Regions from separate parts of the Homo sapiens genome. Here all the other regions are linked to region 3. The links come from fine-mapping of genetic effects on gene expression. A gene starts in region 3. Each other region holds a variant in brackets. All regions are shown on one strand. Distances are between the middles of the regions.

The links. PIP is the estimated chance that this variant, and not a neighbour inherited with it, causes the effect.
Region 1: its variant is the best candidate, but not a certain one, in a credible set for the expression of ZNF483 in whole blood (INTERVAL, PIP 0.69).
Region 2: its variant is the best candidate, but not a certain one, in a credible set for the expression of ZNF483 in esophagus mucosa (GTEx, PIP 0.61).

Annotation. Positions count from the first base shown.
Region 1 is chr9:111,432,827-111,437,178 of GRCh38, reverse strand. It overlaps ECPAS (Ecm29 proteasome adaptor and scaffold), which reads left to right. Exons shown (of 50, transcript NM_001364929.1): 7 at 71-239; 8 at 3,807-3,946. Among named protein-coding and RNA genes, the nearest start is that of ECPAS, 49 kb to the left of the region's middle. The variant AG/G (reference allele first, on the strand shown) is at 2,593.
Region 2 is chr9:111,565,973-111,569,972 of GRCh38, reverse strand. All of the region lies in intron 9 of PTGR1 (prostaglandin reductase 1), which reads left to right. It also overlaps a transcript of ZNF483 not described here. Among named protein-coding and RNA genes, the nearest start is that of PTGR1, 32 kb to the left of the region's middle. The variant T/G (reference allele first, on the strand shown) is at 1,577.
Region 3 is chr9:111,523,453-111,527,804 of GRCh38, reverse strand. ZNF483 (zinc finger protein 483) reads right to left here and starts at 2,626. Exons shown (of 6, transcript NM_133464.5): 1 at 2,543-2,626; 2 at 1-537. The coding sequence starts at 409. RefSeq lists enhancers at 1,463-1,962, 2,074-2,273 and a silencer at 2,374-2,723.

The DNA.
Region 1 (4,352 bases), 91 kb after region 3:
GTTTTGTATACATATATAGTTGTAAATGCTTTTGTATTTATAGAGGGTTAAAGTGTTATTTCCTTTCCAGTTACGTGTTAAATGAATCCCAGAGTCGCCAAAATTCATCTTCAGCACAGGGTTCTTCTTCAAACAGTGGCGGAGGTTCTGGAATCCCACAGCCTCCTCCGGGAATGAGCTTTTATGCAGCCAAACGAGTTATTGGTGATAACCCATGGACACCTGAACAATTGGAACAGGTATCACACAAGGCTTGCTCATAATAGTAGTTGATTGTGGACACTTTCCCCTATGAAGTTCATGAACCGTATAAAACATAATTCTAGTATATTCAGGCTCTCCAGTGAAATATGTTTGAAAGAAGCAGTTGATGTAATGTGTTCTTTTCATGCTAGTTATTTATTAAGCCCTAGGGGCAGGGAGGAGTGGGACATACTGTTTAGTTTTTCTAATACTGCTTACATATGTCAAGTATAAAGCACAACTCACTTATAAATTGAATATGTTTAACTTTTGTCATTTTATTTTTTTTTATTTTTTAACTTTTGTAATTTTAATTTTTTAATTATAGGTTTAATTTTCATCTAGCTTTTATGGTGCAGTTAAAATACAATTTTTCTTACATTATTCAACTTTTAAGGGCTGTACGTTTTATGTAAAGTGAGGAGCCCCAGCACTTCACAGGTGACAATGTGGGGAAAAGCATGACTCCCTGTTATATTACTTCTTGGGAATTTAAAAATTGGCATTAAGGATTTTATTCTGGATTTAAACAGGACACAGATGTTCTCTGAGCAGCTTTTAAAAATGACTGGTGCTCTACAGAGAAGGTGCCTTACTGTGTCTGTGTCATCAGGCACTTCAGGGAAGAACAGATGAGATCAGTATGTAATTATTTTGGAATTCAAGCAACATGGGTTAGTCTTCTAATCCTTCCTTTATTTCTCCATGGCAGTCTAAATGATTTGATCCCTTTTTTTTTGGGAAATGTAAGTGACCATTGATTAAAACAGTATTCCCAGGAGAGGGGAAAAGAGGCAAGTGGGGCATTCTTGCCATTCACAAATTTATAGAATGTTTTATTGAGTGAGGGATATAATTGATTTGATTTCCTTCTTCATGTTTTATGGATCTTTTTTTTTTTTCCTCCTTAAACTATTATGTAAGTAAGAAAGGTAAAGAATTAACAGAGGCCGGGCGCAGTGGCTAATGCCTGTAATCCCAGCACTTTGGGAGGCCAAAGTGGGCGGATCATGAGGTCAGGAGATCGAGACCATCCTGGCTAACATGGTGAAACCCTGTTTCTTCTTAAAAAAAAAAAAAAAAAAAAAATTAGCTGGGCGTGGTGGCGGGCGCCTGTAGTCCCAGCTATTCAGGAGGCTGAGGTGGGAGAATGGCGTGAACCCAGGAGGCAGAGCTTGCAGTGCGCCGAGATCGTGCCACTGCACTCCAGCCTGGGCGACAGAGCAAGACTCCATCTCAAAAAAAAAAAAAAAAAAGATTTACTGAAGCTACTCTTTATTGAGTGCAATCTATGTGACAGGCACCGTACCGGGTACTTTGAATACAATATCTCATTTAACCCTCGGAGCAACCCAGTAAGGTATAGAAATTGTTAGTTCCATTTTCTGAAAGGCATGGAGGTTTTGAGATTTACCAGGGTCTCACTTTTAGTACCAGGCTTTGAACCTAGGATTATCTAAGGGTTAAAGCTACAAATGCTGGAGAAAAATTGTTATTGTTCAATTACAATCTTAAATTGGTCATTATTTGCCAATATGCCTCTGTATGTGTTTTGTCAGTTTCATAATCTAGTGCTGAAACGAACAGTTTAGTTTCAGGGATGAAAGCTATTTTCCTCTAATTTTAAAATATCTCTTTGTTTTATACTTTTTCTTCCAAGGAAAACATGTTTTTTCCAATTATAAACAATGTAAATATTCAAGTAGTTAAGAATAGTAGAGAAATTAAAAATTAAGGGGCTGGGTGTCGTGGCTCGGGCCTGTAATCCCAGCCCTTTGGGAGGCTGAGGTGGGTGGATCACTTGAGGTCAGGAGTTCGAGACCAGCCTGAGCAACAGAGTGAGACCCCGTCTCTATTAAAAATAGAAAAATTAGCTGGGCGTGGTGGTGCATGCCTGTAACCCTAGCTACTTGGGAAGCTGAGGCATGAAAATCACTTGAACCCAGGAGGTGGGGGTTGCCGTGAGCTGACATTGTGCCATGACACTCCATCCTGGGCGATAGAGCAAGACTCTGTGTAAAAAAAAAAAAAAAAAAAAAGCCAGATGTGGTGGCTCATGCCTGTAATCCCAGCACTTTGGGAGGCCATGTTGGGCAGATCGCTTGAGGTCAGGAGTTCGAGGCTAGCCTGACCAACATGGCAAAACCCCATCTCTACTAAGAAAACAAAAACAAAAATTAGCCGGGCATGGCGGTGTGTGTGCCTGTAGCCCCAGCTGCTGGGGAGGCTGAGGCACGAGAATTGCTTGAACCCAGGAGGCAGAGGTTGCAGTGAGCCAAGATTGCACCACTGCACTCCAGCCTGGGCGACAGAGGGAGACTCTGTCTCAAAAAAAAAAAAAAAAAAAAA[AG/G]TTAACTGGAATCCTGTCACACTAGTTTGTCATCTGTCTACAGTTTTGCTCTGTGCATGTGTGTGTGTTCACCGTTTTAAACAATACATTTCTACTTGTCATGTAATACATTATTTGTAGTTTGCTTTTTATGTTGAATAATATTTTGGATTTTTAAAAAAGTAATTCTTTTTAATGTTTGTTTACAATTATATGTGATATGTTTTAACCAGTCTCCTATTGATGGACATCTGTATCATTTTCAGTTTTCTTTACACATTTTTTGTTTAGTTTATATCTTTGTGTACTTGACTTCCATGTGTCCTTTTTGTGGCTGTACAAATGTTTGAATCTTTTCTGTTGTAGCTGTTGTTAAAAGTAAGTTGTATCGAGCAGGGGAGGGAAGGCAGGCCCTTTTTTGATCTGTTATGCTTTTTTAAGTTGCATTTTTTTCTCATTTAATAATTGTAAACTTTATTAATCCTAGTATATGTAAAAACTGTTATGTGACTGATTTTTTAAGATGAAAATGAAACTTTATTTTTTCAGGTGTATTTATCCTAAATAGAGTCATTTGTAGTGAAATTCATAGCATCTTCACATTGCATGAAGTTCTAAGCAGAATCTCTCTAGTCTGTTTCATTTCAGCCAGTCAATTAAATTGAAAACTGTTTGATTAGAATTTCACTTGCATTGAGTAGCTAACATTTGAAGTCATATCCTTTGTATGTAAGCAATAGAGTGAAACTCCATGGAATGTGAGTTGTTTAGTTCTTTTTTGAACTGTCAGAAAAATCCATGGAGCACTATATTCCTAGTGTACCACCCTCTTATCTGGAGGCCCCAAATTTGGACTTCAAGACTTCATCACTCTAGAGAGGCTGTGTAACCTCACTAGGGAGGCTGTGTATCATAATAATTTTGGAGTCAGAGAGGCTTGGGTTTGAATCCTGCCATCGTCGTTTACCAGTGTCTTAATCTTTTAAGCCTTGCCTCGGTATTTTTAGCTAAAAAATGGGTATAATGATTGATTTATTATTGTGAGGATTAAGTGAAATTATGAATATATGTGCTTTAGTACAGTCCCCGGCACATTGTAAGCCTAAGTAGGAGCTGCTACTGTTGTTACTGCTCATCTTTGGCTTGTGACCACACTGATATGTTAAGCAGTACTTTCAGTGGGTGTCCTTTGCTCCCCTGACTGTTCTTTCTCCTTCCCTTCATTTATCTACAGTGCAAATTGGGAATCGTGAAATTCATAGAAGCTGAACAGGTGCCTGAACTTGAAGCTGTTCTCCACTTGGTGATTGCCTCTAGTGATACACGCCACAGTGTGGCAACGGCAGCAGACCTGGAATTGAAAAGCAAACAGAGGTAACTACTTCCCTGTAAACTTTCAAGATTGAAAGGACTACATTTCTAAAAACTTACTTGACACATTTTTTGTTTAAGGATTTTTTGTAATGAGGCATTCAACTTAGAGGAGATTATTAAATATACCTAGTTTGTAATCAAGTTTGCTAAAGAGTTGAATTCTGTGTAAGACAGAGAAGAAAATCTGTGTGGAGATGCTGTTTATAGCTGCAATAGGTTAGGAATGTCATCACAATCAATGAGACTTTTGGCTAGGTAGATGAACTTAAAGAATTGATGTTAAGAAAAGTGTCAGTTCCAAGAAACTAATTTTTATTTTTTTCTGTGTCTCAAACCATTCGAGATTACTTTTAATAAAGACTATGTATGTATTATGGTTAATACAGTGAAAATTACATTCATGAAA
Region 2 (4,000 bases), 42 kb before region 3:
TTGGGTCATTGTGCTTAGAGTATAAATATTCTTACTTTTCCCATCTTTGAAAGGAAAACAAAACAACCCTCTCTAAAGTTCATTTCCACTGCAAATGCAGGTCCATTTCCCTTCTCTCCCTTTTATAACAAAATACCTGGAAGTGCTGTCTACACTCACTGTCTGCCATTCCTCTCTTTCCATTCTTCCTTAAACCCACATATGAGGCTTTTCAGAGTCTCACTCTGTTGCTCAGGCTGGAGTGCAGTGGCACAATCTCAGCTCACGGCAACCTCCGCCTCCTGGGTTCCAGCAATTCTCATGCCTCAGCCTCCCGAGTAGCTAGGACTACAGGTGTGTACCACCACGCCCAGCTAACTTTTTGTATTTTTAGTAGAGACAGGTTTTCGTCATGTTGGCCAGGCTGGTCTCAAGTGATGCGCCCGCCTCAGTCTCCCAAAGTGCTGGGGTTACAGTTGTGAGCCACCGCACCTGGCCAAAATTAACTTTTGTCAAGGTCACAGGGGACCCTTACATAGTGAAATCCACTGGTTGATTCTTAGCCTCACTTGGCTATGGGAAATATTTCATAGTGATCATTCTCTCCTTGATATGCTTTCTTCCCTTGGCTTCCCTTAACTCTTGGTTTTCCTCACTGATTGGTCCTCCTCAGACTCTTGCTAGCTTTTCTTTACTCCAAATTAATATTAGAGTGCCCCAGGTCATGGTCACTGGGACTTTGCTCTTCTCTATCTACGCTTGAGCTATCCCTTAGTTAGCTCGTCTGGGCTCAGTATGCTGGGAGTTCCCATCTCTATCTCCAGCCTGGCTCTCCTCTTAACTCTAGGCTAGTATGTCCACCTGGATGCCTGATACACATCTCTGACATAACATCTTGAAAACTAAATATATTTTGATCTTTCCTGCTCAACATGCTCCATATTCAGACTTTACTATCTCAGTTATAACAATTCTATACTTCTAGTTTCTCAATCCAAAAGCCTTGGTCATCTTTGATGTCTTTCTGTCGTACCCATGTCTAATCTCTAAGGAGATTCTGGTGGTTCTATCTTCAAAATATATACAGAATCTGAACACTTCTCCCACCTCCCTGCTACCACCCTGGTCCAGGCACCATGCCTTCTAGCCTGGATGCTTGTAGTGTATCGGGGGAACCTGCCCCCAATATTTCAACATAGGTTCTTTCTATTTTTCATAAGTGTTGGCTGGCTGAGAAATAAAGAGAAAGAGTACAAAGAGAGGAATTTTACAGCTGGGCTGCTGGGGGCGACACCACATATCAGTAGGACCGTGATACCCACCTGAGCCACAAAACCAGCAAGTTTTTATTAAGGATTTTAAAAGGGGAGGGGGTGTACGAACAGGGAGTAGGTCACAAAGATCACATGCTTCAAAGGGCAAAAGGCAGAACAAAGATCACATGCTTCTGAGGAAACAGGACAAGGGCAAAATCAGAATTACTGATAAGGGTCTATGTTCACTGTGCACATATTGTCTTGATAAACATCTTCAACAACAGAAAACAGGGTTCGAAAGCAGAGAACCAGTCTGACCACAAATTTACCAGGGCGGAGTT[T/G]TTCCCCCACCCTAATAAGCCTGAGGGTACTGCAGGAGATCAGGGCGTATTTCAGTGCTTATCTCAAATGCATAAGACAGACACTCCCAGAGCAGCCATTTATAGACCTCCCCCAGGAATGCATTCCTTCCCCAGGATATTAATTATTAATATTCCTTGCTAGGAAAAGAATTTAGCAATATCTTCCCTACTTGCACATCCATTTATAGGCTCTCTGCAACAAGAAAAATATGGCTGTGTTTTTCCCAACCCCGCAGGCAGTTAGACCTTATGGTTGTCTTCCCTTGTTCCCTGAAAATCGCTGTTATTCTGTTCTTTTTCAAGATGCACTGATTTCATATTGTTCAAATACATGTTTTACAATCAATTTGTACAGTTAACACAATTATCACAGTGGTCCTGAGGTGACATACATCCTCAGCTTACAAAGATAACAGGATTAAGAGATTAAAGTAAGACAGGCGTAAGAAATTATAAAAGTATTAATTTGGGAACTGATAAATGTCCATATTAAAATGAAATCTTCACAATTTATGTTCCTCTGCCATGGCTCCAGCCAGTCCCTCCGTTTGGGGTCCCTGACTTCCCGCAACAGTAGTGGACTCTACCTGGCCTCCCATCTTTGCATCCCTATAGACAATTCCCAATGTGGTGGCCATAGCGATCTGTTAAGGCACAAATCAAATCCTGCCGTTCTTATGATCCAAACCATGCAAAGCTCTGCATTTCACTTAAAGTAAACCAAAGTGCTAATATTCAGTAAGCTTACACAAAATCTGACCCCTGATATCTCTCTGATTTCATTTCTTAGTATTCATCCTCTTATTTACTTGGCCCAGTCTCCTCCACCCCTCTGTAACTGCTTGCTGAATTCTCTCACGTCCTGCAAGCCTTTGCTAAAAAGTGCCGTCTGGACTGGCACGGTGGTTCACACTTGTAATCCCAGCACTTTGGGAGGCCAAGGCAGGTGGATCACAAGGTCAAGAGATCGAGACCATCTGACCAACATGGTGAAACCCTGTCTCTACTAAAAATACAAAAATTAGCTGGGCATGGTGGCGTGCACCTATAGTCCCAGCTACTTGGGAGGCTGAGGCAGGAGAATCGCTTGAACCTGGGAGGCGGAGGTTGCAGTGAGTCAAGATCGTGCCACTGCACTCCAGCACAGTGACAGAGTACAACTCCATCTCAAAAAAACAAAAAGTGCCTTCCAGGTGAGGCAAGTTTTTAAATGGCCCTATTTTAAGTTGCATTCCCTCTTCATTCTTGATCCTCCATATCCCACGCCCCCCGACTTTTTTTGTTTTTTTTTTTTGAGACAGGGTCTCAGACACCCAGGCTGGAGTGCAGTGCCGTGATCATGGCTCACCACAGCCTTGACCCAGGCTCAGGGGATTCTCCCACCTCAACCTCCTGAGTAGCTGGGACAACAGTCATGTGCCACCACACCTGGCTAGTTTTTTTGTGTTTTTCGTAGAGAAGGGCTTTCACCATGTTGCCCAGGCTCCTATCCTACTTTTATCCATAGCAATTAATCATCTTTTAACATAATATATACTATAATTTACTTATTCATTTATATTTATTGCACATCTCCCTTCTTGAGGATGTAACCTCCATGAAGACAGCATATTCATACATTTTGCTTTCTGGTGTATCTCCAGCCCCCAGAATAGTATATGAAGCAATGTAGGCACTGAATAAATATTGCTGAATAAATGAATGTTAGAGGGGTGCATACATGTGCCACAGCTCTTCCAGGTCCCAAGTAGCAAATAAGACAATCCCTTAGTCCTGTGCTGTGATAATTTTCAAACCTTACACCATGTAAGTTTTAGTCAACAGAAATCTGAACAATCAAGTTGCATTATTTTAGTTTTACAGGGGAAAAATGACATCATGTTTCCTAATCCCTGGCCAATGATCATTTCCCAATTCCAAAGAATAGATTGCTCCTCCAGCAGCCACTGGAGCTTGGCACTCTTCCCAGTATAGCACTTGCAGTGCCGGGCTGGGCTGTCACCAGGGAGCTGAATCTAAGTTGTCCCAGTTGGTGAAATCTAATGTAACCCATCTGTGATCACAGTTGACAACAGGAAACCACTGTGCTGGTGTCCCCAGTGCTTCCCTCTAACAAAGTGAAGCTGATCATAGTTAGTTAGGTGTTTATTTATTTATTTATTTATTTATTTTTGACATGGAGGCTCACTCTGTCGTCCAGGCTGGAGTGCAGTGGCGCGATCTCAGCTCACTGCAACCTCTACTTCCTGGGTTCGAGTGATTCTCCCACTTCAGCCTCCCAAGTAGCTGGGATTACAGGTGCCCGCCACCATTCTCGGCTATTTTTAGTAGAGATGGGGTTTCACGATGTTGGCCAGGCTTGTCTTGAACTCCTGACCTCAAGTGATTCTCCTGCCTCAGCCT
Region 3 (4,352 bases):
TTTCTTCAAGCATCTGGGTCAAATCTTCTATTAGGGTCACCACTTCCTCACTACTCTCAGGATGTTGTGACTTTACCCAAATCCTGATCTCCCCAGGCAAAATGGTCAGGAACTGCTCAAACACCAGAAGCTCTAAAATCTGTTCTTTCGTGTGAATGTCTGGTCTCAGCCACTGATTGCAGAGCTCCCAGAGTTGACTCAGAGCTTTCCTGGGTCCAGCTACTTCTGAGTAACAAAACCACCTAAACCTCTGTCTGAAAGACTCTGCATCAGCAGCATTTCCTCTTAAAATAGCTTCTTGTTCCCCAGAAGTAACCACTCTTGGGACCTCATTTTGTTCAGTCGAGGCCAGAGTTTGAGGTTCTGGTGAGATGGCTGTCATCTTGTTCAAGGGCACTACAGCTTGCATTGTGTCTCAGGGGCAGGAATCCAGTCCCTTCACACTCTAGTTGAGTATCAGTACAGTCCACCAACAGGCACTATACACAGCCAGGAATATCAAAGGTTCCAGGAATCCAGTTTACAGTCCTGCAGAAACTGTCAAGAAGAAATATTAAGGCATTAAATAAGTAAAAAAACTGTTGTTAGTCCTAAAAACATCGTTCTTGGTTTGGTTCAGAGAAATATATCCACACACATACCAGCAAAGGCCTAGAAAAGCCCTGCTCAATTAAAAGGATAACTTTCTTTCTTTTTTTTTTTGAGACGGAGTTTCGCTCTTGGTGCCCAGGCTGGAGTGAAGTGGTGCGATCTCGGCTCACTGCAACCTCTGCCCCGGCTGGGTTCAAGTGATTCTCCTACCTCAGCCTCTTGAGTAGCTGGGATTATAGGCGCCCACCACCATGCCTGGCTAATTTTTGTATTTTTAGTAGAGACGGGGTTTCGCCATGTTGGCCAGGCTAGTCTTGAACTCCTGACTTCAGGCGATCCACCCACCTCAGCCTCCCAAAGTGTCAGGATTACAGGCGTGAGCCACTGTGCCCAGCCATAATTTTCTTTATAGTCAAAAACCAGGGAGCTACTTAAGGGTTAAGGAAACAGTTGCTTTAGATTGAATACTCCTCCTAAACAAAATGTTATCAGAAAAGGTTCACAAGGGGACCCAGTCACAAAGCTATTTAACAACTCCTACCCTTTCTTAATGAAAGGGCACACATTTCTCACTAGTTGCTCAACTCAGAAGCCCAATTTAATATTTGACTTTCAAATTTCTCTTCCTCCTTACTTCTCCCATCAATCGCCAAGTTCTGGCGATTTTATTTCCTAAGAACCTCTCCATTCTATCCTTCTGAAACTGCCTAAGTACAGGGTTCTTCACTCCAGTCTCACACTGTGGCCAAAAAATTCCTTCTAACATGCAAAATATGATCTTATCACTCCCCGGCTTACAGTCCCTCACCAGCCACCGAACTGTCTCTCGATAAAGTTCACATGCAGGGACCATGGCATTGTGATCTAGAGACACTGTCTGATGACCTCACCTCTTGAGCTCTAGCTACCCGATTGACACTACAGCCATAAATTAGTATCTCCTCTCTCTCTACATACTCTCCTAGCCTTTGCACCAAGGCTATTCCCTCTCCTCGGAATGTTGCTTTCTTTCTCCTACCAAACTTTTATTCGTCTTTAAAGCCTGACTCCTTTCAACTGTCACTTCTGGTGTGATGCTCTGCTTGATCCCAAAGCACTCCTTTGCACACAGACTGCCCTGTGTTGCATTCATTCATTCATTCTATAAGTGACGGAGCAACTACAATGAGCTGGAACGAGACCAGGGGCCATGAGCTGCGGGGCCAGGCGTGGACAGGCCTGAAAGGGTCCTCACGCTCACAGAGGGTCCAGGAAATGACAATACAGCCGGAGCGGGACTACAATGCGACAAGTGAAGGATGTGACAGCCTCGCATTGCAACTACCATACCAATAACAACCCACTTCCGAGTACAGCGCCCGGCACACAGCAGCATGACGTCATTTATTCCTCTGCCAAATATTAGGCGCCCACCACGTACCTGGCGCCGTGCTGAGCACCTGGGGCTCCGCGATGACTAAGACACTCGGCTCCGTCTACAGGGAGTTTACATAGGAGGCCCGGTGAAAATGTGACGCAGCCAGAGGATCTCAACCAGAGGGAAGAAAAAAGGAGAGATTTCACCCCCCAGCGGTCCTCTGGCAATGTCTGGACACATTTTTGGTTAGCTCGACTAGGACGAGAGGTGGTACTGTTATCTAACGGGCAGAACCAGTGACGCTGTTAAACATCCTGCCACAACGGGAGAGCCTCCCCCTCACCGCCACACCACAAACAAAACAAGGCATTATCCCGCCCAAAATGTCAACAGTGCCCAAGTGGCGCAGGGAGGGATGGAGGGAAGCCAACAGCCCCATCCCGCAGCGGAGTGCGCACCTCCCACAGAAGCAGCAGCAGCGCAGCGCACAGCCCGTTGGTAGGCTGCTCCCGGCCCCCATCCCGCCCCAAGTGCGCCCTCGGAGCCGGCGACCCGGCCACGGCCCCGAAACTCGGGGCCCGGGACGACCAGTACCTGCATCAGCATCCGCAAACAGCACCAACGCCACCGCAAAGAGCTTCCAGAAGCTTGTCCCGCAGCGAGTGCGCGCGCAAGCCTGCGGGAACCACTGCGCCTGCGCAGAGGCGCTGAACCGGACTCCCCGAACGCGCTCGTGCAGCTTTCCGAAAGTCCGCGCTTTCCATAGGCTCCCACCTGCCTGTTGCGCATGGTCACTGGGAAGCGGCTAGTGGGCTCGGCTGCAGAATTATTGCTGCGCCAGAGGCTCAGAGGCCTAGAATCGTATGAGGTTTGCAGATCCAGGAGGCTCCATCTGTTTAGTAACCTCAGACCTTCCCTACCCGCTCCCATCACTTCCATTCCCTGAAATCTAAGGTGGAAAAATCCACCGCAGAAGCATATTACCGATGCATTTAATGCAAGCCATAATTAATGCCACAACTTGAGTTAAACACATATTAATCTTATGACTTCCACACCTGCCCCCATGGTCCAGTCCACCCTCATGGCTCACCTGGATTATTGCAATAGCTTCTTGATTATACCTTACTTCTCTTGGCTATTCTCCACAGCCAGACGGACGTTTTAAAAACGTCAAATTATGACCCTCCTTTGCTTAAAACCCTGCAATGGTTTCCCATTTCACTCAGAGTTAAAACCCAAGTCTTTATAGTGGCCTACAAGGCCTGATGGAATCTAGCCCCTGTAACCTCCCGCACCTCTTCCCCACTTTCCTGCTCCAATCTTGATAGACCCCTTCCTCTTCTTGTAACCTGCCAGGTACTTCCGGCTGACCTGCTCCTTCCCTAAGTGGCCATACGGCCCGCTCTCTCATCCCTTCAGGTCTTCTCAATGAAGCTCTCCCACCATTCCACTTAAATAGGAATCCCACCTTACTCTTGTTTCCTCTTCTAACATGCCCTATAGGTTTGTTAATTTTTTTTTTTACTACTTGTCCGCCTTCTCCAGTAGAATACTAATTTCAGAAGAGTAAGTATTTTTATTTCATTTGTTCTAGGTTGTGTGTTTAGGTCCTGGAACAGGACTTGGCCCATGGCAGGCACTCAATAGATATTTGTTGAGCTTATGAATGAGTATTTGCATGGATTATTGGGGGCATTGCAAAAAGGGCCAAAGAACTCCAGAAAAATTGTTTGGAGGGTTCTAATAACTGGATGATCCCTGAAGGGGTGGAGTTAGGAGAGAAAGACTAGATTCATTCTAGACTGAAGGAGCAAGGTGATTCAAGGCCCTGAGACTTCAAAAGGGCAGAGCAAGCTCAACTAAATGAACCACTCCTCTCAAAAGGAGTGGGCTTATCACAGGCAGCAAGTCAAGCTGAAGAGACAGGGCTGAGAATGGCCGGGCGCGGTGGCTCATGCTTGTAATCCCAGCACTTTGGGAGGCTGAGGCGGGTGGATCACCTGAGGTCGGGAGTTTGAGACCAGCCTGACCCACGCGGAGAAACCCTGTCTCTACTAAAAATACAAAAAATTAGCCAGGTGTGGTGGCACATGCCTATAATCCCAGCTACTCGGGAGGCTGAGGCAGGAGAATCACTTGAATCCGGGAGGTGGAGGTTGTGAAGAGCTGAGATCAGGCCATTGCGCTTTAGCCTGAGTAACGAGTGAAACTCCGTCTCAAAAAAAAAAAAAGAGAAAAAAAAGAAACAGGGCTGAGAATGAAGACAAAAGTTTTCTCAGTCCCGAGTCCCATGGCATATTCTCCTTTACCCACCTCCCCTTGGCTGGCTTTAGACGCATCAGGAAGAAGCTGGAGAAGGCAAAGGAATAGGAAATGTCTATTGGCTCATTATTTTAACCAG